Linked DNA regions of Homo sapiens. The protein of the gene in region 4 interacts with the protein of the main gene of each other region in a pairwise test. Each region holds a gene or a part of one and is shown on either strand. Other genes may lie near its edges. The genes, in order: RASAL3, NUP54, BRME1 and HOMER1.

What was found.
Region 1: the proteins of HOMER1 (region 4) and RASAL3 interact in binary tests that used the Homo sapiens proteins (3 or more experiments, as listed by UniProt).
Region 2: the proteins of HOMER1 (region 4) and NUP54 interact in binary tests that used the Homo sapiens proteins (3 or more experiments, as listed by UniProt).
Region 3: the proteins of HOMER1 (region 4) and BRME1 interact in binary tests that used the Homo sapiens proteins (3 or more experiments, as listed by UniProt).

The regions. Positions count from the first base shown.
Region 1 is NC_000019.10:15,451,100-15,454,555, forward strand, and holds the end of RASAL3 (RAS protein activator like-3), read right to left. Parts: coding exon 3,262-3,456; intron 3,169-3,261; coding exon 3,050-3,168; intron 2,399-3,049; coding exon 2,008-2,398; intron 1,717-2,007; coding exon 1,559-1,716; intron 1,152-1,558; coding exon of another isoform or gene 1,046-1,151; exon of another isoform or gene 1,010-1,045; coding exon 946-1,009; intron 840-945; coding exon 696-839; 3' UTR 525-695; downstream 1-524. UniProt on the Homo sapiens protein: Functions as a Ras GTPase-activating protein. Plays an important role in the expansion and functions of natural killer T (NKT) cells in the liver by negatively regulating RAS activity and the down-stream ERK signaling pathway.
Region 2 is NC_000004.12:76,138,369-76,145,403, forward strand, and holds part of NUP54 (nucleoporin p54), read right to left. Parts: intron 6,106-7,035; coding exon 6,022-6,105; intron 5,925-6,021; coding exon 5,781-5,924; intron 1-5,780. UniProt on the Homo sapiens protein: Component of the nuclear pore complex, a complex required for the trafficking across the nuclear membrane.
Region 3 is NC_000019.10:13,903,114-13,910,541, forward strand, and holds the start of BRME1 (break repair meiotic recombinase recruitment factor 1), read right to left. Parts: upstream 3,005-7,428; 5' UTR 2,998-3,004; coding exon of another isoform or gene 2,602-2,997; intron 1,801-2,601; coding exon of another isoform or gene 1,780-1,800; coding exon 1,749-1,779; intron 1-1,748. Other genes in the region: CC2D1A (coiled-coil and C2 domain-containing protein 1A), read left to right, coding at 3,329-3,388, 6,710-6,845. UniProt on the Homo sapiens protein: Meiotic recombination factor component of recombination bridges involved in meiotic double-strand break repair.
Region 4 is NC_000005.10:79,399,120-79,406,154, forward strand, and holds part of HOMER1 (homer protein homolog 1), read right to left. Parts: intron 2,937-7,035; coding exon 2,780-2,936; intron 1-2,779. UniProt on the Homo sapiens protein: Postsynaptic density scaffolding protein. Binds and cross-links cytoplasmic regions of GRM1, GRM5, ITPR1, DNM3, RYR1, RYR2, SHANK1 and SHANK3.

The DNA.
Region 1 (3,456 bases), on a different chromosome or scaffold from region 4:
CAGCAAATGCTAACCTATCCGTCTGCCGTTTGCTCCACCCACTCTACCCCTCACCCATCCACTCACCCATGATTTGAATGACTCATTTACCCAATCATTCATACACAGTATCCAACCATCTCCACACCTGACCCCCTTCCTTTATCCGCCTCCCAGACCCATGGCCTCCGTGACATGAGGAGGGCCTAGGAAGATGCTCTCACTGTGGGATTGGGAGGTTGCCAGGGGTGGAATCCATGCTTCATTGAGAAGCAGGTGCTGCCTATAACAATGGTGAATACCTTTTATCGAATGCCTTTAACTATGGGTCCTCTCACTGTGTAGGGAACTTTACGTCCATTTCACAGATAAGAAAACGGGCTCTTAAGAGAATGAAGGTCTAAGGTCACACAGCTGGTGAGAACTTGTGTACATGGCCCTCTCCATGAGACTTCTAATTAGGGGAGAATTTGGGAGAGATGAATAGGGCTTGCGGGGCAAATGCCTAAGAATTGGCAATTCTTAGTGGGCAAAGAAACCACCAATTTCACTGAAATCAAGATTTTACTGGGCAACTTCATACTGCCAGAGTGGTTGGGACCAGCAGCTCCACTCCCCACTGTAGGCCAAGTAGGGCTAAGGCAAAGTCAGACACCCCCCCTAAGATGGCTATCTCTCTGCTCCCAGACCACGTGTGATGAGGCAGGATGGGCAGCTCAGGTGGTGTCTCCATTGAGGCAGGGTGCTTTGAGGGGCTGGGGTTGACTCCAAGACCCCCGCGTCCTTGGAGAAAGCTGCAGGCTCTGGACAGCATCCCTCAGCTGAGCCTGAGTTCTCTCCATCTCATTTAGGCGGTGCTCCTGGGGAGGCAGTGGTGATGGGGTTCAGAAACCAGGAGAGGGCTGCACCGCAACCCTTGCTCCTCCACCGCCCAGACCTGCCCCAGGGCTCAGATGGCAATCTCACCAGGTTTTTCAGACTGTGCCCTTCATTGCTTGTTAGGTTGTGCTCTGAATCAAACTCTGAGCTCCTGTGGGGGTCGGGGGATTGGGGCGAAGGGCAGAGGCTAAGGAAGTCCCTTCCAGCTCCTGGTGGGAGTGCCAGGGACTCCGGGGGCGGAGCTTGGAGTGGAGGCGGAGCTTGTCCAGACTGAGGGGCGGGGCCTAAATATGCTTGAAGAAGGGTCGGACCAGAGACGGGAATGGTTGGAATGACAGGACCTATCAATCATCCCTTGGAGGTGGGGTTTGGCCAGTCCTGGGTGGGGTCGTGACTGAGCTGGAGGGAGTGCCCAGGCTGAGATATCTCAGTGCCCGGCCCAGCCAGGTTGGGAGGGGCTGATGGAGGGGTGGGGCCTGGATGAGAGAATCTGCCAGGGTCCTAGGCCGACCTTCGTTGGGTGGGTCCACCTGGGGGCGGGGCTTGCCAAGAGGCAGGGCCTGGACAGACTTATTGGGGCGGGGCCAGGGTGGGGCTTGGCCGTGCTAGGCGTGGTTTGGGGGGGGGGGGGAGGGCCTGGTCAGATCTAATTGGATCGGGCCCACCTGGGGGCGGAGCTAATGGAGAGGGCTGGGCTCACCCAGCACGGAGCCTGGAGTCCAGATCCTGCAGCTGGCCCCGCAGCTGCTCCTGCTGCTCCGTCAAGGCCCGGATTTGGGTGCTCAGCGACTCCACGAGGCGGGACAGCACTTTCTGCTCCTCACGCAGAGCGGCCACCTCGCACTGCAGCTCTGCCAACTGTGGTGGGAGAGCAGCTGTAATCTGACCCGTTGTCCCGCCCCTGTGTCTCCCCGGAGACCCTGACCTCCCAGGCCCAAGCGCTCAGCGTCATCACCGGCCTGCCTAGTTGGGGAACATCCCTCCTGCGGTACAGCTGGGGAGACTGAAGCTCAGAGAGGGTCGGGCTAGGCCTGGGGTCACACAGCACAGCGAGCTGGGTACTTGAACCCAGACTTGCCTGGCCCTTCAGTCTTCCCCAGTCGCGTCCCTGTTCCCACTCCCCAGGCGCGGACCTGGGCCTGACCTTACCTTGTTCACAGGTCGGTGCGTGCCCAGTGCCTGGTTTCGGTCTTGCGGCTGGTCCATTTGGCGCTGCCAGGGTACCGACGGCTTCCGAGGCAGCGAGGCGGAGTCCCGGGTCCAAGGCCGGGCGCGGGGCGCTGGTCCCATGCTCAGGGAGCCTTTGGGTCGCGGCCAGGGCCCCGCAGATTGGCGGCGGCGGGCAGGACGCCGGACCGGGACACTCTGCGTGCGCTGCACCGGCCGGGGCCGCCGCAGGGGCCGCTCTTCGTCCGGCCGTGGCCGGGCCCAACTCTCTGAGCGGCGAACGCTGCGCAGAGACTGGCTCTTGGAGATGAGAGGGGTGTGCTTGGGGAGGTCCCGGGGGGCCAGGAAGCCGGGCTTCTCCCCTGCGGAGAGGCTAGGGGTGGGATGGAGGATCTTAGACCCTCCACTGGCCCCTGAGACGACCCCATCCCGACCTGACCAGAAGTGACCTCACCCCCCACGTGAACTTGTCCTTTCTTTTTTTTTTTTGAGACAAGGTCTTGCTCTGTCGCCCAGGCTGGAGTGCAGTGGCTAGATCATAGCTCACTGCAGCCTTGAATTCTGGAGCTCAAGCTATTCCCCAGCCTCAGCCTCCCAAATATCTAGGACTACCAGCACATGCCACTATACCCAGGTAATTTTTTTTTTTTTTGGTAGAGATGGGGTCTCCCTATGTTGCCCAGGCTTGTCTTAAGTTCCTGGCCTCAAGTGATCCTCCTGCCTCAGCCTCCCAAAGTGCTGGGATTACAGGCATGAGCCACTGAGCCTGGCTCCTGTCCTTGACTTCTGACTATAATACTGTCCTCTCTATGACCCTTGACATCTCTCCACCCTAACCTCTCCTCTCATCCCCGACCTCAAACACACTGTGACCTTTGACCCAACCCTTTCTATAACCTGTGATTCCCGTCTGACCCTGGGCTTGACCTCTGCTCACAATGATCCAACTTCACCTCTGACCCCTGTCTGAGCCCTGCTCCTTCCTGTTCCCACCCATCAGACCCCAGACCAGACTTGAGGTTACCTGGAGTGGACCTGGGCCGGGGGCAGTGGGAGACGCATTGGCACTGACACAAGCACAGGCTGGCCCTCCTCAATGGCTCGCAGGATGGTGGGCAGTGGTTCCAGGGTGTCTCGGGTTGTCTGGTGAGGCATGCAGGACAGAGACTGAGCAAAGTCTCCAGGGTCAGAGTCTCCCAAGCCTTCTTGCCTCCCTACTCTGGGTTCAGGCCATACCTGGTCAAGCTCAGCAAAAATTGTACAGAGCTGGGCATGCAGGACAGCTAACTGGAGGGCCAGATCACCACTGCCCTGGTAACCACTGGGGGCAGCATCCACATCCACCATGGCTACCTGGTCCAGGAAGCATTGCATGGCTGGTCCATGTTCCTCCAGGAAGCTATTCATGAAGCCCATGTAGGCCTCCTTCTC
Region 2 (7,035 bases), on a different chromosome or scaffold from region 4:
GTTGAATACACATCCTCCTTGAAAGCCCTTCTCCCTTAAATTTCCTGACAACACAGTCTCTCTTGGTTTTTTATAAACACATTCATTCATTCATTCACCATTAATTCATACAACAAATATTTACTGAGTACCTACTAAGTGCTCAGAGCCAAATACTAAAGATACAGTGGTAAACAAGGTAGACAAGGTGCATTAAACAAACTGAACACATCAAACAAATATTAACAATTGTGATAAGTCCTTCAGAGAAGTACAGAGGTTCTGGGAGTACTAAATAAGGGAGCTGATCAAGCCTGAGAGAGGGGTCAAGAGAAGACAGTTCCATTAGCACTTCAGTTAGGGCCTAAAGGAAGGAGTCAGCTAAGCCATGGGGTAGAGGTAAAGGCCAACAGTATGTGTAACATCTCTGTAGAGACAGAGAGAGGAAGATGAGTGGACAAAAGCAATAAGGAGGACTAACAATGAGGTAGGAAAAAACTAGACTGGAGTGTCACAGAAGTTAAGGTCTCCCACTGGCCAAATGCAACAACTGAAACATATTTATTAAAGCCCATGCATTCAAAATGGTAATTTTATAAAGTAAAGATCAAATTTTTTTTAAATCCTAACTCCTTGGATACCATTAGAAATAATGAGACCGCCAACTCCTTTTTACAAAAATTGTCCATTAAAAAGAAAAAAAATTATCTTGCCTTTACTATACAAACTGTACATCAGGGTGATCAAGCAGTCTTGGAGGATGAAGAAAAAGTTCCTTTTACAGAAGAAATTTCAGTGTGATAGGGAGGAAATTAGAAAATCACCATTTTGCAACTCCTAATAAGATAACTGATTGAGGCAATGATCATCAAGGAATGAAACCATTAGGTTAAAGTAGTAAGATAAAGATACGCTGTCACCATCTGAACCTACTGATCAATCTTAGCATCACCAAAAGTGAGATAGCCTCTCAACGTGACGTGATATGAAGCACACAGCACCACTTGCAAAATGTTCTTACCAAAAAAGCAAACGTCAAGTCCCTAAAGCAAACTTTATTTACCACAATTATGAGAGATAAAGTTAAATAATATTACAAGGAAGCAGAAGAAAAATACAGAATGGGGGGCATTTAACAAGACAACTGGAAAATTCATGAGGGAAAAAACAGAATGGGGAATTCTCTACACTAAAAAGAACTTAAGGGACATGACAAGAAAATGAATGTGTGGTCCTTGTTTGGATCATGATTCAAACAAACCAAATAAGAAAACGCTTTTGAGACAAATAGGGAACTCTGGTTATAGATGGGGTATTAGATAGTACCAAGGAATTATTGTGGGTTGGAATGAGGTACACATTTTTAAAGAGAGAAGTATAGTAAAGTAAGCATGAAATGACACGCTTGGGATTTGCTCTCAAATACATCAGTGATTTAAAAAAAGGAAAAAGGAGATGGACAATAACAAGTTCTGACTTTTGATGACTCCAGCTGGTAGGGTTCACATCACTTCTTTTTTTCTTTGTTAGCATTTTTCATAAAGAACAGTAAGTGTTCACTGGATTTACTGAGATGATTAATGACCTTAACTTATTTGATAAAATAAAGAAAACAGAAACCAGATTGGCGAATAGTTTGTAAAGGGGAGGAGAGTGGTAGCTGAAGTGAAATGTGGGATTAAAGTAGTTTTGTTGTTGTTGTTATTACTGTTTCAAGAAAAAATAAACTTTGAGTTACTTAAATGTGGATGAGAAGGTGAAGACTGGGGAACGGAGTACAGCTAGAATAATCAACAGCACATGCGCCCTGAAAAGGCAGGAGGTTATAAGATCCTGAGTCAGGTAAAAAGAGGAAAAGGTGGATAGAGGGAGAAAAAAAATAGATTTGGTGGAGGGAAGTTGAAGGAATTGCAATAAGGGATTTTATTTTCTCTTTGGTTTTTTTTTTTTTTTTTTGAGACAGAGTCTTGCTCTGTCACCCAGGCTGGAGTCCAGTGGTGCGATCTCAGCTCACTGCAACCTCTGCCTATGGGGTTCAAGCAATTCTCATGTCTCAGCCTCCCGAGTAACTGGGACTACAGGTGTGCACTACCACGCCCATCTAATTTTTGTATTTTTAGTGGAGATGGGTTTCACCATGTTGGCCAGGCTGGTCTCTGACCTCAGGTGATCCGCCCACCTCAGCCTCCCAAAGTGCTGGGATTACAGATGTGAGCCACTGCGCTCAGCCCTTTTTTGTCTTGGAAGTAGCAGTCAAGGCCATCTGCTAAAAGTAAGAACAGATAAATTTGAGATTTGAAGAGAATAAAGGTTTAAAATTACTGCTATAGAAAGCAGGAGAATAAGTTGAAAGTAGAAATTTCACAGGATTACCAGGCAACATTGAGACCTGAGGTTGGTGATCAAGAATTTAGAGAGGTATTATCCCCTCTTCCATAATGTGTGATCTTTCTCAAGCAATATCTACACAGACAGTTGGGCTTACAAAGGCTTGGGGTTTTTTCAGGCAAATGTGACACAAAAACAAGGAAGTTTAGCATATTGGCAAGAGATATAGAAATGGAAGGCCATGGAATCTAAGCTAGTTAGAGTAGTGAAGACAGAAAGAGCTAACAGAGCAGAAAGTATCAGTTGTCGAAAGATCCAACAGTCTTCTGAAGGATCCTCGATAATCCATGCTTTGGCTTGGAAAGGACTTCTGGCGGTTGTCACAAAGTCAAATGTGACTTTTCCCCTTGATTCACAGGTATTGCCAACTGAGATAGGAATAGCTGTGATTAGTAAAAGGGAGCTAATAAGTATGAGGAATACATGGACGGGCATCTCTATACTGAGATAGGACAAGCAGTGGTCCTAACAATGCTGCTCGCTAATTTATGGTCAAAATCCTACTTGGCTTGGGGATAGGAGATGGCAGCATTTAAGTGTTAGTGTTTCTAAGAGTTTTGTTCTAGTACTCTCCTCTTACTCTGGAATCAGGTCTCCTAAATTACATCATCCATATCTACCACTTTAAATACTACTTACGTTCTGATGGCTTTCATAAATATATACAACTACCCAAGGGACACCTCAAACTCATTATCTACCCACAAACATCTGCTCTTGCTTTAGTATTCTGGATCTTAGTGAAGAGCAAGGGATCCTTCAGTTACGCCACCCAGAAGCCCAAGATACCTTTATCCAGTCATTCGCTTTTATTGATTCTACAAGTTAAATCTCTCTCAAATTCACATCCTGTTTTTTCTCTCCATTCTTAACTGTCACTGCCTTAATTCAGGTCTTCACTATATCTTGCTCAGATTTTGGCAACAGCTTCACCAGATCTCTGCCTCCATTCCAACCCACCTATAATCTATCTTTGTATTTCTCTAAGAGATACTTCTAAAAATCTGATTATTTTCCTGTCTACTTAATCCTACAACAGTTTAGAATTGCTTAAAGGACAGCTCCTTAGTAAAACATATAAGGCACGCTAATAATCCAATTCATATCTATCTCTCCAACTCTCACTACTGACCCTGAGGTCATTTATGCATTAAAAAAACTGCACTGATCTAGTTATACTGGTCCCAAAGGCATTATACTCTGCCATAAACCATGCCATGTTATTTCCTCTGCGTGGATACCCTAGAATCTCCTTGACTATGAGCAAGGATTGTGGTCTTCAACCTTGTACACCCAATGCCTGACATACGATATATACAATAAATGGATATTACATAACAAAATGAGCCCCTTTCAATTTTAAAATAGCACCAGATTCAAATTCCCATTTTCCTAAAAAAACCAAATGTAACTACAGTTACTCATAGTTGGAGAGACTTTATTTCAAGAAACAAAGGAAACACTTCACTTTTGCTGTTCTTTCCTTAACTACTTAAATATTTCATCAAATTTTGTATTTTTGCAGGATTGTAGAAAAGACGAATGACTGGAATACTTGAAAGAATAATTCTGAGAATACTATTCTATTATCTTCATCCTACTGTTAGGCAATCCTTGAAATTCATGTTTAATAAGTTAATAACTAATCTTCAGTGACTGAGTAGGATGAATTTTAGCTAGTCAATCAAGTTACTTAAAAAAATGAAACAGAAGTAATTTTAAGAGGCATCAGATTGGAAAAGTGAAAAGAGCACTAGAATGAGTAGTTGAATTTGCATCCCTGTACTTCTTCTAGAGAGGTATACAGGTAAGTCACAATCTCTCAGGTTCCTCTCTTCACCCATAAAATGGGGATAACAAAAGTATTATTTCACAGGGTTCTTGTGAGAATAAGTTAATCCATACAGAACAACCCCTGGAACCTACTGCCATACCACCTAGTAAGGATGGTTAGTAAGGAAGCCATCAAAGACTAATAACCAGACTGTCTCAAAGGGACTTGGGAGCCAACTTGAAAAGGCTTGCACTGGCCAAAGATGTAACAATTTAAGCATCAATAAGAATGGTAACTGCAATGGATTAAAAAATAGTAACTAGTTTAAAGGCTGCAGTTTCTGACATTAAAAAAAAATTGGTCATCTTTGGAGAATGCTAGATAACCAACTCTTTATTCTGAAAACCAGTAATAAAGAGAAAGAATCAACCAAACAGATGAAGTCAAGTTTCTCCTCACAGAAGTATTTCAACAAATAAATGAATCCAGGTGGAATGGCACTATTTGTAACCCCTAATGAATTAATGGATCTAGGTAATGATCACCAATGGCTCAATGGCTGATCACTCAAAAAAAAAAGATATTATATGTCTTCTGATAAAAAATAGGCCTATAAAATAGTCTTGCAAACAAACAACAAAACAACAAAATATATATATGTACGCCCCAGATCTAACCCAATCATCAAGAAATACAGAGAACAAAGGAATGTGTTAAACTATACCATAGGCGTGCAATCAGAAAAGTCTTGACTAAAAAACTCTATAGGATAAATGATCTGTTTTCTTCAACAAATTAAAAAATAAAAAAGAGAGGCCAGGCGCGGTGGCGCACACCTGTAATCCCAGCACTTTGGGAGGCCGAGGCAGGCAGATCACGAGGTCAGGAGTTCCAGACCAGCCTGGCCAATATGGTAAAACTCCGTCTCTACTAAAAATACAAAAATTAGCTGGGCGTGGTGGTGTGCGCCTGTAGTCCCAGCTACTCAGGAGGCTGAGGCAGAAGTATCGCTTGAACCTGGGAGGCGGAGGTTGCAGTGAGCCGAGGTCGTGCCACTGCACTCCAGCCTGGGCGACAGAGCAAGACTCCGTCTCAAAAAATAAAAAATAAATAAAAAAGAGAGATAAAAGAGGAGCCTATGGAGATTTAAGACAGGCAAAACCAAATACTGTTTACATACTTGAATGACAAAATATAAAGTAAGAAAATGATCACCATAAAAGCCAAGACTGCAGGTCCTCTGATGGGGAAGCAATTGGTAGGGAAATGTGGTAGGCTTCTGAACTGGCTGGCCAGGAACCATCTCCTGACATGGGCAGTGATTACAAGGGTGTTAACCTTTGTAAACTTATATATAATTCATTAAGCTGTACTTTTGTGCAGTTTCTCTATTTGTTATTTTTAACAACAAAAATTTAAATGGAATGATCCTAAACACAGGGACCTTATAATCCTAACTGTGCCAATCAGTGTTCTCCCCAGTTGCTATCATATTTAAACATGAAAAGTAACATTCCTAATCCTTTGGAATATATTAATAATTCTTATAAAAAGTCCACTAAAGTATTCTGAATGCACTCAATAATGTCAGCTAGTATCATCACGGTTTTGTATTTGAAGCTGAAAACCTCATACTTACTAGTTTGCTGCTGCTGCTGTGTATTAAATCCTCCAAATCCCAGTCCAGTTCCCAAACCAGTACCTAAACCAGTACTAGTTCCCGTTGTTGTGCCAAAACCAGTACCAAATCCAAAACCTTTGTTCTGAGTACCACCAAAGAGTCCTTTGAATGAAAAATTGGAACTTCGTAAGTTAAAAAAAAAAAAAAATCTGACCTCTACTTCATTTACTTCTATGAATGACTTAAGATGGCCTCTTACCAGTAGTGCCTGTGTTAGTTGGGGCAGAAAAGCTGAATGCAGAACCTGCAGTTGTAGATGTTGTCCCAAATCCTCCAAACCCACCTAATTAAAAAAGAACAAAAATAGAAAGGAAGAATCTTTTGTATATATAAAGGCAACTTCTTTTTAAAATTATTTTATAATTGCTACATATAAAATCAAAATATATTGATCTAATTTTTCCTTTCCCTACTTTCAAGATCAATTTTTTAAAAAACTATACTACCAATCAAGAAGTCAAAATGTTACAAGAAATGAACTAAGCATTTAAAATAGAAATATCACAATGTAATATATACCCTTCAATTAAAGGGGTGGTTAACAGTTACAGCTGAGAAAACACATTAAGCCTATTGCCATAATTCTAAAATGACTATGTATGTACTTTTAGAGGAGGTGTTGCAAATTCATATGCCTAGAAGATTTAGACTGATAACAGTAAAGAGTAAAGTAGACTATGTGTTTACTGATAGGTGGAACTGTTTAAAATGAATAGTTTTTTAGATCAGCAGTTCCTAAATTCCAGCAGATACAAGAAAGGTAGTTTAGCAGTGTCACATATTCCCATTTTTTACCCCAAGAGAAACAGGAAATCTGGATTTTCTATGTAAAATTTATTGGTTTTTGGCTGGGCGCGGTGGCTCATGCCTGTAATCCCAGCACTTTGGGAGGCCGAGGGGGGTGGATCACAAGGTCAGGAGATCGAGACCATCCTGGCTAACACGGTGAAACCCCGTGTCTACTAAAAATACAAAAAATTAGCCGGGCGTGGCGGCGGGCGCCTGTAGTCCCAGCTACTCAGGAGGCTGAGGCAGGAGAATGGCGTGGACCCGGGAGGTGGAGCTTGCAGTGAGCCAAGATCTTGCCACTGTACTCCAGCCCGGGCGACAGGGTGAGACTCCGTCTCAAAAAAAAAAAAAAAAAAAAAATTTATTGGTTTTTAAACCCTAATTCAACTACTTTTTTTTGCAAGGAATTCAAATGTTTTGAAAA
Region 3 (7,428 bases), on a different chromosome or scaffold from region 4:
AAAATAAAAGTTTTCTTAAAAGTCTGGAAGAAGAATTGTTAACAGCAGTGTACATTTGTGTACTACCTTAGGTCAGTTCTGGGTGCTTTACAGATACTAATCCACATGTGAGCTCTAAGGGCAGGATTCTTCACCTTGGAGGACATTTGGGGCTGGATCATTCTCTGTGGCTGGGGGGCATCCTATGCATGGTAGGATATTTGAGCAGCATCCCTGGCCTCCACCCACTAGATGTCAGTATAATTTCCCCAGTTATGAAAACCAAAAAAAGTCTCTAGGCCGGGCACGGTGGCTCCCACCTGTAATCCCAGCACTTTGGGAGGCTGAGGCAGGCAGATCACCTGAGGTCAGGAGTTTGAGACCAGCCTGGCCAACATTGTGAAACCCTATCCCTACTAAAAATACAAAAATTAGGCGGGCGTGGTGGTGCACATCTGTAGTCCCAGCTACTTAGGAGGCTGAGGCTGCAGAATCGCTTGAACCCAGGAGGTGGAGGCTGCAGTGAGCCAAGATCTTGCTACTGCACTCCAGCCTGGACGACAGAGTCAGACTTGGTCTCCAAAAAAAAAAAAAATAAAGTCTCCAAACATTGCCAGCTGTCTCTGGAGGTCAAAATCCCTTCCTCTCACCTAGTTGAGAAACACTGCTCTAAAGGAAAGGGTAGTGGCTTTTATTATCCCCAATTTACAAAAGGGGAAACTGTGGCACAGAGGAAATCATCCACCACCACACACTGAGCAGAACTGGGATGAACCCAGGTTTTGGGCCCCAGAGTAAAACACTCAGCCACATACCGAGTGGCCTTGTAGTACATCAAGCATTATTCCAGGGGTCATCTCTGGGACTGGTTCCGCAGGGAGGCTGTCCCGCTGCCCTGAAGCCCGGGGAGGCCTCCTCTAAGCTGTGGGACCCCACCAGAGGCTTGCAGAAGCTCCAGAAAACTTTCACTTTTACTTTTCCTGTATGCCCTCTCCGTTATTTCTATTTTTCTTTCTTTCTTTTTTTTTTTGAGACAGGGCCTCAATCTATCAGTCAGGATGGAGTGCAGTGGTACGATCTGGATTCACTGCAACCTCCACCTCCCAGTTCAAGCAATCTTCCTGCCTCAACCTCCTGAGTAGCTGGGACTACAGGTGCCTGCCACCACGCCCAGCTAATTTCCTTACTTTACATTGTAGAGACAGGATCTCGCTATGTTGCCCAGGCTGGTCTTGAACTCCTGGACTCAAGCGATCCGCCCACCTCGGCCTCCCAAAGTGCTAGGATTACAGGCGTGAGCCACCACACCGGCCTTCTATTTTTCTTACCAGCATGAATTAAATCCTTTTTGTCTTTTTCTTTTTTTTGAGACAGAGTCTTGCTCTGTTGCCCAGGCTAGAGTGCAGTGGCACCATCTTGGCTCACTGCAACATCGGACTCCCAGGTTCAAACGATTCTCCTGCCTCAGTCTCCCGAGTAGGTGGGACTACAGGCATGTGCCACAACACCTGGCTAATTTTTGTATTTTTAGTAGAGACGGGGTTTCACCATGTTGGTCAGGCTGGTCTTGAACTCCTGACCTTGTGATCTGCCCGCCTCGGCCTCCCAAAGTGCTGAGATTACAGGTGTGAGCCACCGCACCCGGCCAATCCTTGCTTCCTTTTAAGGAGGTTAAGGCAGTCGTGTTAGCCAGATCTGCAATAAACAAGCCCACATTCTTCCCACAAGCAGAAGCAGAAATCAACAAGTGTCCATTTGAATGAACGTACCTGAGGTCCGCAGCTTCTTCCTCTTAGTCATTTTATCTTCCCCTTGAGAAATCTGAAAACAAGCAAAATCTCTCATCATTATAAGCAGTCTCTGTCTCTGTTTATATCCAGTGGCTTTGGCTGAGAGCAGAGGTTACCCCTACCTCCACCTCAGCCCATTTGGCTGCCCCAGGGGTCAGATGGCTCCCACTGGGACACAGGATGGGACACAGAGTCACAGCCACTTTGGGCCATGGCCAGGTAGGAATTCAAACCTCCTCCAAACTGAAGATCTTATGCCCAGGACCTGAAAGACAAATGGGCCCTGGGGGGTCCTTATAGATAGCCCCGGGGACCCAGACTCTGGTCCCTAGGATGAAACAGCCTGTGTGAAGCCCCTCCCTCCAGACTGGGGTATCTGGGGGCCCTTCCAAGGACACTTGAGGACTCTCCAGGGGCCTCTGGAGACCAGCCTGGCCAATATGGTGAAACCCCCTCTCTATTAAAAACACAAAAATTAGCCTGGGCATCGTGACGCACACCTGTAATCCCAGCTACTTGGGAGGCTGAGACAGTAGAATTCCTTGAACCCATGAGGCAGAGGTTGCAGTGAGCCGAGATCGCTCTACTGCACTCCAGCCTGGGCGACAGAGCGAGACTCCGTCTCAAAAAAAAAAAAAAAAATTAGTCAGGTGCGGTGGCACACACCCGTAATCCCAGCTACTCAGGAGGCTGTGGTACAAGGCCAGGAGGCAGAGGTTGCAATGAGCCAAGATCGTGCCACTTTAAAGGGGACAGCTGGGTCCTTGGAGGGGAAAGAGCTGCCATAGGCCGGTTTCTCCCAGCCTTGGGGGCGAGGCAAACCAGAACGGACCTGGGCCACAGAAGTCGTTGAGGACCCTCTGTCCTTATCAGAAACGAGCTCTGCCTGGATCAGTTGGGAATAAGTCGCTTGAATTATCCGCGTTACTCTTTTTGGAAAAAATAAATGGCCAAATTGGCCCTCACAGAACGCTGGAGGCCTCGAGTCCGGAGGTGAAAGATGGAAAGGCCTGAGGGTGGGCGCTGTAGACCCCGCTCCCGGTGACAAGCCCCACACTGACACTACGCCGACCACCGAGAAGTGAGGACTCCACAGGCCGAGAGCCCACGTGAAGCCGGAGCCCGTCGGTGACTGACAGACGCTCTGAACCCCACAGATGTCGCCGCCCCTCACACCTGCGCGCGCTCTGCCTCTTTCCCGCGCCCCGCGAGGTCCCGCCCCGCGCATGAGCGACGCAAACACCGCCCTCGCAGCCCGCGACAGTCAGCACCGCCCCAGCCAGGCGCCTGCGCGCCCACGCACTACCTGCCGGGAGTTGTAGTTTCGGCTCGGCAGACCCGGCGAGCCCAGTGGCCGCGCTCCGGTGCGGCGGCGCCCGAGGCCCGAGGCGGAAGTGGGACGGCCAAGCAGGGAAGCGAGGGCTCGGGATCGACGGCCGCGGGGCGCCGACGAGGAGTGCAGGACTCAGGAAGGGCGAGTGCGCGGCGACAGAGCCCGGGGAAGGAGGCAGGGCAAGGCCGGGCTTGGGGGCAGGTGGTCCGGGCATCCAGCCTTGAAGATGCACAAGAGGAAAGGACCCCCGGGACCCCCGGGCAGAGGCGCCGCGGCCGCCCGCCAGGTGAGTTTGCGCCCCACGGCCCGACCTGGGGATCCCTCCCCACCCCCGTCACTCGCTCAGGGAAGGGCCCCACCCCCCAGGGAAGCCCGATCTCCGCCCCACAGGTAAGCCCCGGTCCCCGCCTCCCCCCAGGTGAGGCTCCAACACCACCCAAGTGTGGCCTACTGGCCTTGGCTCCCCAGCTCCTGGGGCCCTGCCCCGGGTTCGGGGCCACCTGTTGCCACAGCTGCTCCAGTCGAGGAGGGGCAGTCCTCGGACTTGACACATCAAACCCTTGCATCAGTCGGGCCATGTCAGACTCTTTTTATTCCATTGTACAGATGAGGACTTTGAGACTCAGAGACGTGAAGACATCTGCCCAAGGTCATAGGGATTAACAGCTTGGCCAGGGCTAAGCACAAATCCAGGGCTGCAGCCATAAGCTTATGGCACTGTGGCTGGACCCCTTCTCACTCTCCCGACTTCTTTGCCCCAGGCACCAGATAGTTTGATTTTTCTCAGTTTTGATGGAAGGAGCCCAGGACATAGCTTGGTGTTCAGATATTAGAGTCTGGCTGACCTGAAGTTCCCTCCTGGCCTCTGTACATCGGACACTTGACTTTACAGCTCTGAGCCTCAGCTTTCTCATCTGTAAAATGGAGATCTCTATAATCCCAGCACTTCAGGAGATGGAGGCGGAGGCAGAGGTGGGAGAGTCATTTGAGGCCAGAGTTTGAGACCAGCCTGGGCAAAAGCAAGACCCCCGTCTCGACAAAAAAAGACTAACTGGGCATGGTGGCATGTGCCTGTAGTACTACTACTTGGGAGGCTAAGAAGGGAGGATTGCTTGAGCCCAGGAGTTCAAGACCGCAGTGAGCTATGATTGCGCTACTTCTGCTCCAGCCTGGGTGACAGAACAAGACTCTTTCTCTAAAATAAAGATAAAAAATTAAAAATGGAAGTCCGGGGTGGTGTCTCACACCTGTAATCCCAGCACTTTGGGAGGCCATGGCGAAACCCCATCTCTACTAAAAATACAAAAATTAGCTGGGCATGGTGGCGGGCACCTGTAATCCCAGCTACTCGGGAGGCTGAGGTGGGAGAATCGCTTGAACCGAGAGGCGGAGGTTGCAGTGAGCTGAGATCGCGCCACTGCATTCCAGACTGGGTGACAGAGCAAGGCTCCTTCTCAAAATAAATAAATAAATTCCTTCTGAAAATAAATAAATAAATAAAAAATTAAAAATGGAGACCTCCAAGAGACCCTACATTACAGGACAGTTGTAGAGAGTCATTGAGATAGTTTATGGAAAGTGCTAGAACATAGCACTCAATAAATGTTACTATTATCATTATTACTAGTTGGTGGAACCATACATAATTGCCAATATTTGGCCATTTTTTACCTACAGGAAAGGCAATTTCATATGGTTAAACACGATGTTATCACATCATGATTGGTCATTAGCCAAGATAGGAAGACGGGTCTGCATGGCAAACCTGCATTGTGGTTAGGGGTTCTTTTTTTGTTTGTTTGTTTTTGAGACAGAGTCTTGCTCTCTCGCCCCAGGCTGGAGTGCAGTGGCGCAATCTCGGCCCACTGCAACCTCCGCTTCCCGGGTTCAAGCGATTCTCCTGCCTCAGCCTCCCGAGTAGCTGGGATTACAGGCATGCGCCACCATGCCTGGTTAATTTTGTATTTTTTAGTAGAGACGGGGTTTCTCCCTGTTGGTCAGGCTGGTCTGTCTCGAACTCCCCATCTCAGGTGACCCGCCTGCCTCGGCCTCCCAAAGTGCTGGGGTTACAGGCGTGAGCCACCGTGCCCGGCCTAATTTTTGTATTTTTAGTAGTGATGGGATTTCACCATGTTGGCCAGGCTAGTCTCGAACTGCTGACCTCAGGTGATCCCCCCACCTTGGTCTCCCAAAGTGCTGGGATTACAAGCGTGAGCCACTGCACCTGGCCCTGTCGTCAGGGCTTCTAATTGCTCTTCTTTTTTTTTTGGAGACAGAGTCTTGCTCTGTTGCCCAGGCTGGAGTTTGGTGGCGCAATCTCAGCTCACTGCAACCTCCACCTCCCAGGTTCAAGCAATTCTCCTGCCTCAGCCTCCCGAGTAGCTGGGATTGCAGACACCGCCAGCACTCCCAGCTAATTTTTGTATTTTTAGTAGAGACGGGGTTTCACCATGTTGGCTAGGCTGGTCTCGAACTCCTGGATTACAGGCGTGAGCCACCGCATGCAGCCATCATGCTCTTGAAGCCCAACCTTCCCACACAGCCCCTCTGCTGAGGATGCTGGAAAGAAAAGCCCAAGTGTACAGAGTAGCTTTGCTTTGGGCAAAGTGTGGAGCCTGCTTCCTTCCCTCCTTCCCTCCCTCCCTCGCTTCCTTCTTTTTTTCCTTCCTTCCCTCCTTCCTCCCTCCCTCTCTCCCTCCCCGGCTCCATCTCTCTTTCTTTCTTTCCTTTCAACAGGGCTTTACTCTGTTGCCCAGGCGGAGTGCCGTAGCACAGTCATGGCTCACTGCAGCCTTGATCTCCCCAGGCTCAAGTGATCCTCCTGCCTCAGCCTCCCGAGTAGCTGGGACCACAGGCACACAGCACAACTCCCAGCTAATTTTAAAAAGTTTTTTTTCCTGTAATCCCAGCACTTTGGGAGGCCGAGGCGGGCAGATCATGAGGTCAGGAGATCGAGACCATCCTGGCTAACAAGGTGAAACCCCGTCTCTGCTAAAAATACAAAAAAAAAATTAGCCGGGCGTGGTGGCGGGCGCCTGTAGTCCCAGCTACTCGGGATGTTGAGGCAGGAGAATGGCATGAACCCCGGAGGCGGAGGTTGCAGTGAGCTGAGACTGCACCACTGCACTCCAGCCTGGGTGACAGAGCGAGACTCTGTGTCAAAAAAAAACAAAAAACAAAAAACTTTTTTTTTTTTTGTAGAGTTGGGGGTCTCACTGTATTGCCCAGGCTGGTCTGGAACTCCCAGACACAAGCCATCCTCTTGCCTTGGCCTCCCAAAGTGCTGGGATGACAGGCGTGAGCCACTGCGCCCAGCCAGGGGCCTGCTTTTCCCACTGAACTTGGCCCAGCAGCACATCATAAGTGTGGATTCAGATCAGAGAGCTGGGTCTCTTGCCCTTTGCCCCAGGTTGAACTGTGCCAGAGGGCCTGGCCTATCTTGGAACACCTGTTCTGGGCTTGTTCCAGCCTCCTGGCACTCCCCAGGGAAATGGCTTTCCCTGGGAGACCTTGTTTCCTTCCTCCCAAGGGGACTCTCTGGCCATCATGGCTGCCTCTAGCCATGTGGTGAACCAAAGGTCTGACTGAACCCTTGCTGTTCCCCTAGCTGGGCCTGCTGGTTGACCTCTCCCCAGATGGCCTGATGATCCCTGAGGACGGGGCTAACGATGAAGAACTGGAGGCTGAGTTCTTGGCTTTGGTCGGGGGCCAGCCCCCAGCCCTGGAGAAGCTCAAAGGCAAAGGTGAGATGGTTAACACACCCTCAGAACATTTTCTGATCTCCTGCAAGTGGTTCGGGCGCAGAACTGGGGGCACTGGGTAGGTAGGGGAAAGAAGACAGAGAAGACCCCTGTTCTCCTGGAGCCAATGATCTGGGTAAGAGAGTCAAGATCGACTCTGAGGCCGGGCACGGTGGCTCACGCCTGTAATCCCAGCACTTTGGGAGGCCGAGGCAGGCAGATCATGAGGTCAGGAGATTGAGACCATCCCGGCTAACACGGTGAAACTCTGTCTCTACTAAAAATACAAAAAAAAAAAAAAAATTAGCCGGGCGTGGTGGCGGGCGCCTGTAGTCCCAGCTACTCAGGAGGCTGAGGCAGAAGAATGGCGTGAACCAGGGAGGCGGAGCTTGCAGTGAGCCGAGATCGCACCACTGCGCTACAGCCTGGGCGACAGAGCAAGACTCCGTCTCAAAAAAAAAAAAAAAAAAAAAAAGATCAAGTCTGGACCGAGACTGAGAGTTGGAATCCGAGCTCTGCCACTTACTGGTTATGTGACTTGATGAGTCACATCATGTGCTTTGGCCTCAGTTTCACCATCTGTAAA
Region 4 (7,035 bases):
AACTTTCCTATAGGTAACAATTGCAAATTGTGGGCAAAATGTAAAAGTCAACTGTTTGAAGGACCTGGTGAGTAACCAAATTGGGCAAAAGACTGCAAGAAAGCAGTCACTTTGGGTGATTTCCACATCTTTTTGCCTGAAGGTACTCTGCAGTCTGGCTGCATTGCTTGACTGAACAAGCAGAAATCCATAGTCTTATTTCTCTGAGAAGCCTGAGAATTTTAGGACTCTGCAGAACACCTGGCACAACTAGGAGTAGGAAAAGAGCTGGAAGGCTGAAAGAACTAAACTGCGATGGTGCTCAACAGAGATGACAGTTTGAAGTTCTGCTAGTCCCTGCTAAATTAGAGGGCCTTGGTAAATACCTCAAGCTTTGCAGTGAAACTTTGGAAAGGGTTATGTCTTAGAGATAAAGATTTCCTAGGACAATGTGATTTACCCTAGGGTTACAGCAAAATTGAAATACATGAATTCTAACAAAGCATAAGTACACAACTCCACAAATTCAAGATAATCTCCAAATAACTGCCTGTTGAAACAAAAACTCAACATTATTCAAAAATAACAAAATCTGTGGTCTCTACAACATCTCATTTGCAATGTCCAATACAAAATTAAAAATGACTAGTCATTTTTCTGAAAAAACAGTAAAATGTAACTTATAATCAAGACAAAATTTATCTAAATAAAAGTGGAGATAATTTGTTGGCAGTACACTTGGAGTACAAAAACTGCTCAAGGAGGTTATTCAGGCTGAAGGGAAACAATACCTGATAGAAATTCAGATCTACAGGAAAGAAGCACAATGGAAACTGAAAATATGTGAGTAAATAAATATATTATGTTTCTTAAGTTCTTTAATATTCAATTGACTATTTAAAGAGAAAATTTCTTAAGGGCAGAGATTACACAATAAGGAGACATGATAGCTCCTTAATATTTTCTGGCTATGACAATTGTCATAAATTTTTTTTTGTGGTAAAAAACATATATCATAAAATTTATCATCTTAGTCATTTTAAGTGTATAGTTCAATAGTGTTAAGTATTTATATTCACATTGCTGTGAAACAGATCTCCAGAACTTTTTTAACTTGCAAAACTGTAAGTCTATACCCATTAAACAACTCTCCTTTCCCCCACCTCTCTTAAGTTAATTTTTACACACAGGATAGAATAACATTTACTCAAGTTTCTAACATTTCCACTCTGTCTCAACTGCATTTCCTTTTCTTTCTTTTTTTTTTTTTTTCTGAGATAAGGCCTTGCTCTGTTACCCAAGCTGGAGTATGCAGTGGCGTGATCTCAGCTCACTTTAGCCTCTGCCTCCTGGGCTCAAGTGATGTTCCCACCTCAGCCTCCTAAGTAGTTGGAACTATAGGGACATGCCATCACACCCATCTAATTTTTGTATTTTTAGTGGAGATGGGGTTTCACCATGTTGCCCAGGCTGGTCTTGAACTCCTGGGCTCAAGCAATCCATCCTCCTTAGCCTCCCAAAGTGCTGGGATTATAGGTGTGAGCCAATGTGCCCAGCTTGGAATTTTTTTTAAAAGGAGAAATTAAAGGCATCTGTTGGGTGAAGCACTTCTATGCCTTGAATTAAAAAAAAAAAAACTTCTTCTTTTTTTTTTTTGTTTTTTAGAGACAGAGTCTTGCTCTGTCACCCAAGCTAGAGTGCAGTAGAGCCATCATAATTCACTGCAGCCTCCAATTCCTGGGCTCAAGCAATCCTTCCCACTCAGCATTCCAAGTAGCTAGGACTACAGGCGTGTGTCCCCATGCTTGGTTAATTAAAAAAAAAAAAGAAAAAAGATTTTTTTTTTTTTTTTTTTTAATGGAGATGGGGTCTTGCCATGTTGCCTGGGCTAATCTCAAACTCTTGGCCTGAGAGCATTAAAACACTTTACAAGTAATTATCTGGGCTTCTGATATTAATGGTATTGAAATTTCTGGTTTTCTTTTTCTGCACCAAATCTCTAATATTACCAAAGTTAATAATTTTCTACTTGTATTTTTCAAATTGTTCCTTCTTTAAAAAGAAAATAATAAAAGCAGCTCATTGACTCACTGCAACTCATTGAGACAGTGCAATTACACGGCACTTAAGTGTCTCAACAAATTTTCATAGGAATTGTACAGAATACATACTTTTGACTCAGTGCAACTACATGCCAATTAAGTATTCAATTAATCTTCACAGGAATTGTACAGAGTACTTATTATTCCTATTTTACAGATGAGAATACTGAGCTGGAAGAAGGAAATAACTTATCAAAGATCATACAGATAATAACCGGCAGAACTGGAATTCGCACTCTGGAATACTCTGGTCTTGTAAACCAGAAATGGAGAATCCCCTCCCCAGGACAACTCAGGAGAAAAGCATTCCCGCTTCACCGTCAACACCCAAAGCTAAAATTCTAATTAAACTACTCCCTGAATTTTTTCTCAGCACACACTTTAACTACCATGTCAGTACTAATCAACTAGCACTAATACATTAGTGCTTTTATGTACTTGTGCATTACTGCTAGTCCCCATGGATAATATGGGGAATCAACATGGTTTGTTGACTTCAAAAGGCGTATATTCTTCATTCTCATTAAACTATGGAAAATATTTTTCTTAATCAAACAAATGCATATCATACAACCCATATCTATGTTCTGACATCCTAGAACTAGAAGATATCCCTGTGCTGAATCTACATGCAAATTTCTTCTGATCAAGAAAACCTGTTAGCCCTAAATCCCTATAGACATCAGCCCTGAAATTACCCGCTTGTGCAGACGTTCTGCTTCCTCTTGATAGGCAGCAAGTTGCTGTTTCCATTGTTTCACATTGGCAGTGGACTCCAGCAGGGCTGCAGTGAGTTTGGCATTATTTCCTTTGAGGGTAGCCAGTTCAGCCTCCCAATGTTTGCTGATTGCTGAACTAAAATAAAACAAAAAGAAAATTCTATCCATTACACCAACTACTGTTACCTTGAAGGGACAGCAAGACTCAGTTCTATTGTAGGGTTTATAGTCTAAGAATGTTTTCTTTTCTTTTTTTTTTTTTTTGAGATGGAGTCTCGCTCTGTTGCCCAGGCTGGAGTGTAGTGGCGCAATCTTGGCTCACTGCAACCTCCGCCTCCTGGGTTCAAGCGATTCTCCTGCCCCAGCCTCCTGAGTAGCTGGGACTACAGGCACACGCCACCATGCCCAGTTAATTTTTTTGTATTTTTTTAGTACAGACGGGGTTTCCCATGTTGGCCAGGCTGGTCTTGAACTCCTGACCTCAGGTGATCCACCTGCCTCAGCCTCCCAAAGTACTGGGATTACAGGCGTGAGCCACTGTGACCAGCCCTAAGAATGTTTTCAAAGACAACCTCAAAATACTAAAAAACACAAATACTTTACCAAAATATTCCTAGTAAAGAAAACCTGGCAAGTGAAGAAATATAAAAAGTACTCAAGTACCAGGCTTAACGTGGAATGTTTCCAACCTTCATTATGACAGATACAGTTATCTACAGAAGAGTTTCCACCCATTCTCTTTTAAGGAATAAACATTATAGCCTGAAAAACATCTATTAAAAAAACCTAACAATGTATTACATTTTTTACGTGTGTCAAACCCTAAAGTACAATGTTATTCCTTAATGAAAACATATGAGGATGCTTAAATGTCATAAGGTTTGGGATATGTAATGTAGTATTTCTTTTGAAATTGTTTTTGATTTATTTCATCTTATTCAGGACCTTAAAATGTCAAAAATACAAACATTTGCTACAATAAACTGATTTCATAGGAAAGGCTAGGCCTACAAACTGGTTCTAAAGACTTGACTTCTGATATAATTCCAGTGTCATAAATAGAAGAAGACTAAAGCAATCACCGTTTTTCCTCATTTAATATTCTACTTGATAAGTTACTACAGTTAAGTACCTCAACTAAAACAATTTTCTACTACAAGACAATTCTTTTAGTTGGAAAGACTCCTCTTGAAAATTCCTTTCCTAACTTTCCAATGAAGAATTGCCTCATTAGAAAGAAAAAGGTTGTTTCTCTTTCTCATTATTGAAGTTTATTTCTATTAGTTAAATTCTACTAACCTCATCCCATTAACTAACTAGTGAGGCTTATAGCTTTCTTCAATCACCATTTTTTGGGGGTTTGATAAATCATTTGTATTCTAGGGTAAATTTGATGGGTTGATATTTTATAGTAATTTTAGCATATATTTTATTTAAAAAGCATAGTTTTCATCACCAAGATTTCTAAAGTTTATCACCAGAAATATGACATATTAGCATCACGAACCCCCTGATATGATGTACAGAGAATGACACAAGATTGTGTCTGTAGTATTCTTGCAATAAATGCGTAACTTCAGTCAAACAATGAGAAAATATCATATAAACCCAAACTGAGGGACAATCTGTAAAATAACTGAAACTCTTCAAACATGTGAAGAAAATGAAGGAAACAGGAAATAACAGTTAAATGCAAGGTGGGATCTTAGGTAGGTTCCTAGAACAGAAAGGGAACATTGGTGAAAACTGAGGGTTAGTTAGTAGTATTGTATCAATGCTACTGCCCTGGATTTGATCATTGTATTATGGTTACACAAGATGTTAACATTAAGGGAAGCTGTGTGAAGTGTATACGGGCACTCTGTACAGTTTTTGTGATTTTTCTATAAGTCTAAAATTAGTTTAAAATGAAAAGTTAAAAATATTCCTAAAGTTTACTAAGTGAGAAAATATCATCAAAACATGAAAGGATAGAATCAAGCAACAAGCTAAGCTATTAACTTAACAATCCATTTCTATCCTGAAAAGGAAAGCTCTTTTCTTATTCTTCCTTTGTGAAATGATTTTTCAGATTCATGTCTTCTGAAAAAAGCATGCATGGATTCACCTGCTCTAACTGAATTATAGATTTTTCTTTAAACCACCTACCAGTTTTTCCCCTATAGAGATGCGTTTTATTTAAATGGAAACTTCAATCTGACGATTGACATCTTAGTGAACTAATTTAAACACTTGTTACATGTCAATAGCAAACACCTTTAAAAATTAACTGGAAGAAACAACAATTATTTACTCCTAAAATCCATTTGTCAAAATCACACAATTATAAAGTAAAATGGATTACCACATATTTATAGCAGGAGAAATAATTTTAAAATGAGGGTGTTTTTCTATTATATTTATGTGGGTTTTATTTTATAGTCACTAGACAGTAAAATCCATCAAGCATTTTATAACTGCTTACATCACAAGTATTCAGTAATTATCTGGGTAACCTCGGACCCAACACTCAAGCACTTTGGTTCTCAGTTCTTTATATGTCAAATAAATAGATCAGTCAAGATCTGTATTATCCAAATATTAGCATGTGGCTATTTAAATGTAATACTTCAAAATTAAAGTAAAAAATTCAGCTTTGAATTTGAGACACATTTCATGCACTCAACAGCCACACATGACTGGTGGCTACTACCCTGGACAGCAAAGATAACAGAACATTTCATCATGACAAAAAGTTCTACTGAACAGTACTGTTCAAGAGGATCTTGACATTCTGCCTTTTCTTTCTTTCTTTCTTTCTTTGAGATGGAGTTTCGCTCTTGTTGCCCAGGCTGGAGTGCAATGGCACAATCTCAGCTCATGCAACCTCCGCCTTCCAGGTTCAAGCGATTCTCCTGCCTCAGCCTCCCAAGTAGCTGGGAGGTGCCCACCACCACGCCCAGCTATTTTTTTTTTTTTTTAATATTTTTAGTAGAGATAGGGTTTCACCATGTTGGCCAGGCTGGTCGCTAACTCCTGACCTCAGGTGATCCACCCGCCTCGGCCTTCCAAAGTGCTGGGATTACAGGCATGAGCCATCGTGCCCGGTCCTGATTGCCTCTTCGATTCTGTGCGTGAGGCTGAACTGTGTCCCTCCAAAACTCATATATTGAAGTTCTAACTCCCAGGATCTCACAGTATGACTGTATTTGGAGACAGAGTCTTTAAAGAGGTAATTAAGGTTTAATGTGGTCATTAGGGTGGGCCATAATCCAGTATAAATGGTGTCCTTACAAGAGGAGGGGATTAGGACACAGACACACGAACATAAAAAGAGACGACAGCCATCTACAAGACGAGGAGAGAGGCCTCGGAAGAAATGACCCTGCAGACGCCTTGATCTCAGACTTCTAGCCTCCAGAACTATGAGAAAATAGATTTCTATAGTTTAAGCCATGCAGTCTACAGCATTTTTTAGGACAACTCAAGCAAACTAATAAACATAATTTTTTAAACCCACATTATGTAACCTATCAATTTGCCCCATCTTCCTGAATTGAAGTACATGGATTATATTTCCTGTTCTAATCAAGCTGGCTTTTCTGTGATGAGCTCTTCTTCTCAATCAGATTCTCATTTTTTTCTATGAATTTTTGTCCAATTTTTTCTATATTCAGAATCTATCAGATTGCATTTTTTCCTTTCATTGATTCAAGTTTTCTCCAACAAGTATTTTCCAGTTATTACACCCATCCTTTCACTTACCAGCAAAACCTGGTGCTTGCCAATCTGTGCAAGCTTAGTCAATGCACTAAATGAAAAGTAAAGGTATTCACTATGAAATAAGTGCAAGGCTAACCTCAGATCAAATCAATTAATGAGTAGTAAATTTTATAACACTAATTTTAATAAAACTTTCAACACTAATAAAAACCTCAAATATAAATATTTTAGCTCTCACATCAGGGATGGAATTTCACACTAGTTTTGGGTAGTAGAATCATATGGAGTTTCTTGACTCCCATTTTAAACTTATCAGGCATGCATATACGGTAACAGGGATTTCATCTATAAAACACTGTAGACCTGGAACATGGAGAATCTACAACAAACCTGTTTAAGAAAAGGTTGGTATTCCTGAACTAGTTGCCTTGTTTTGGCGTAATTTACAAGTTAATACCGATTGGCAGAAGTACTTTTTATATGAGTAGTCTAGGTAGTTATAACACCACATCAATTATTTTAAAACGCTTGAC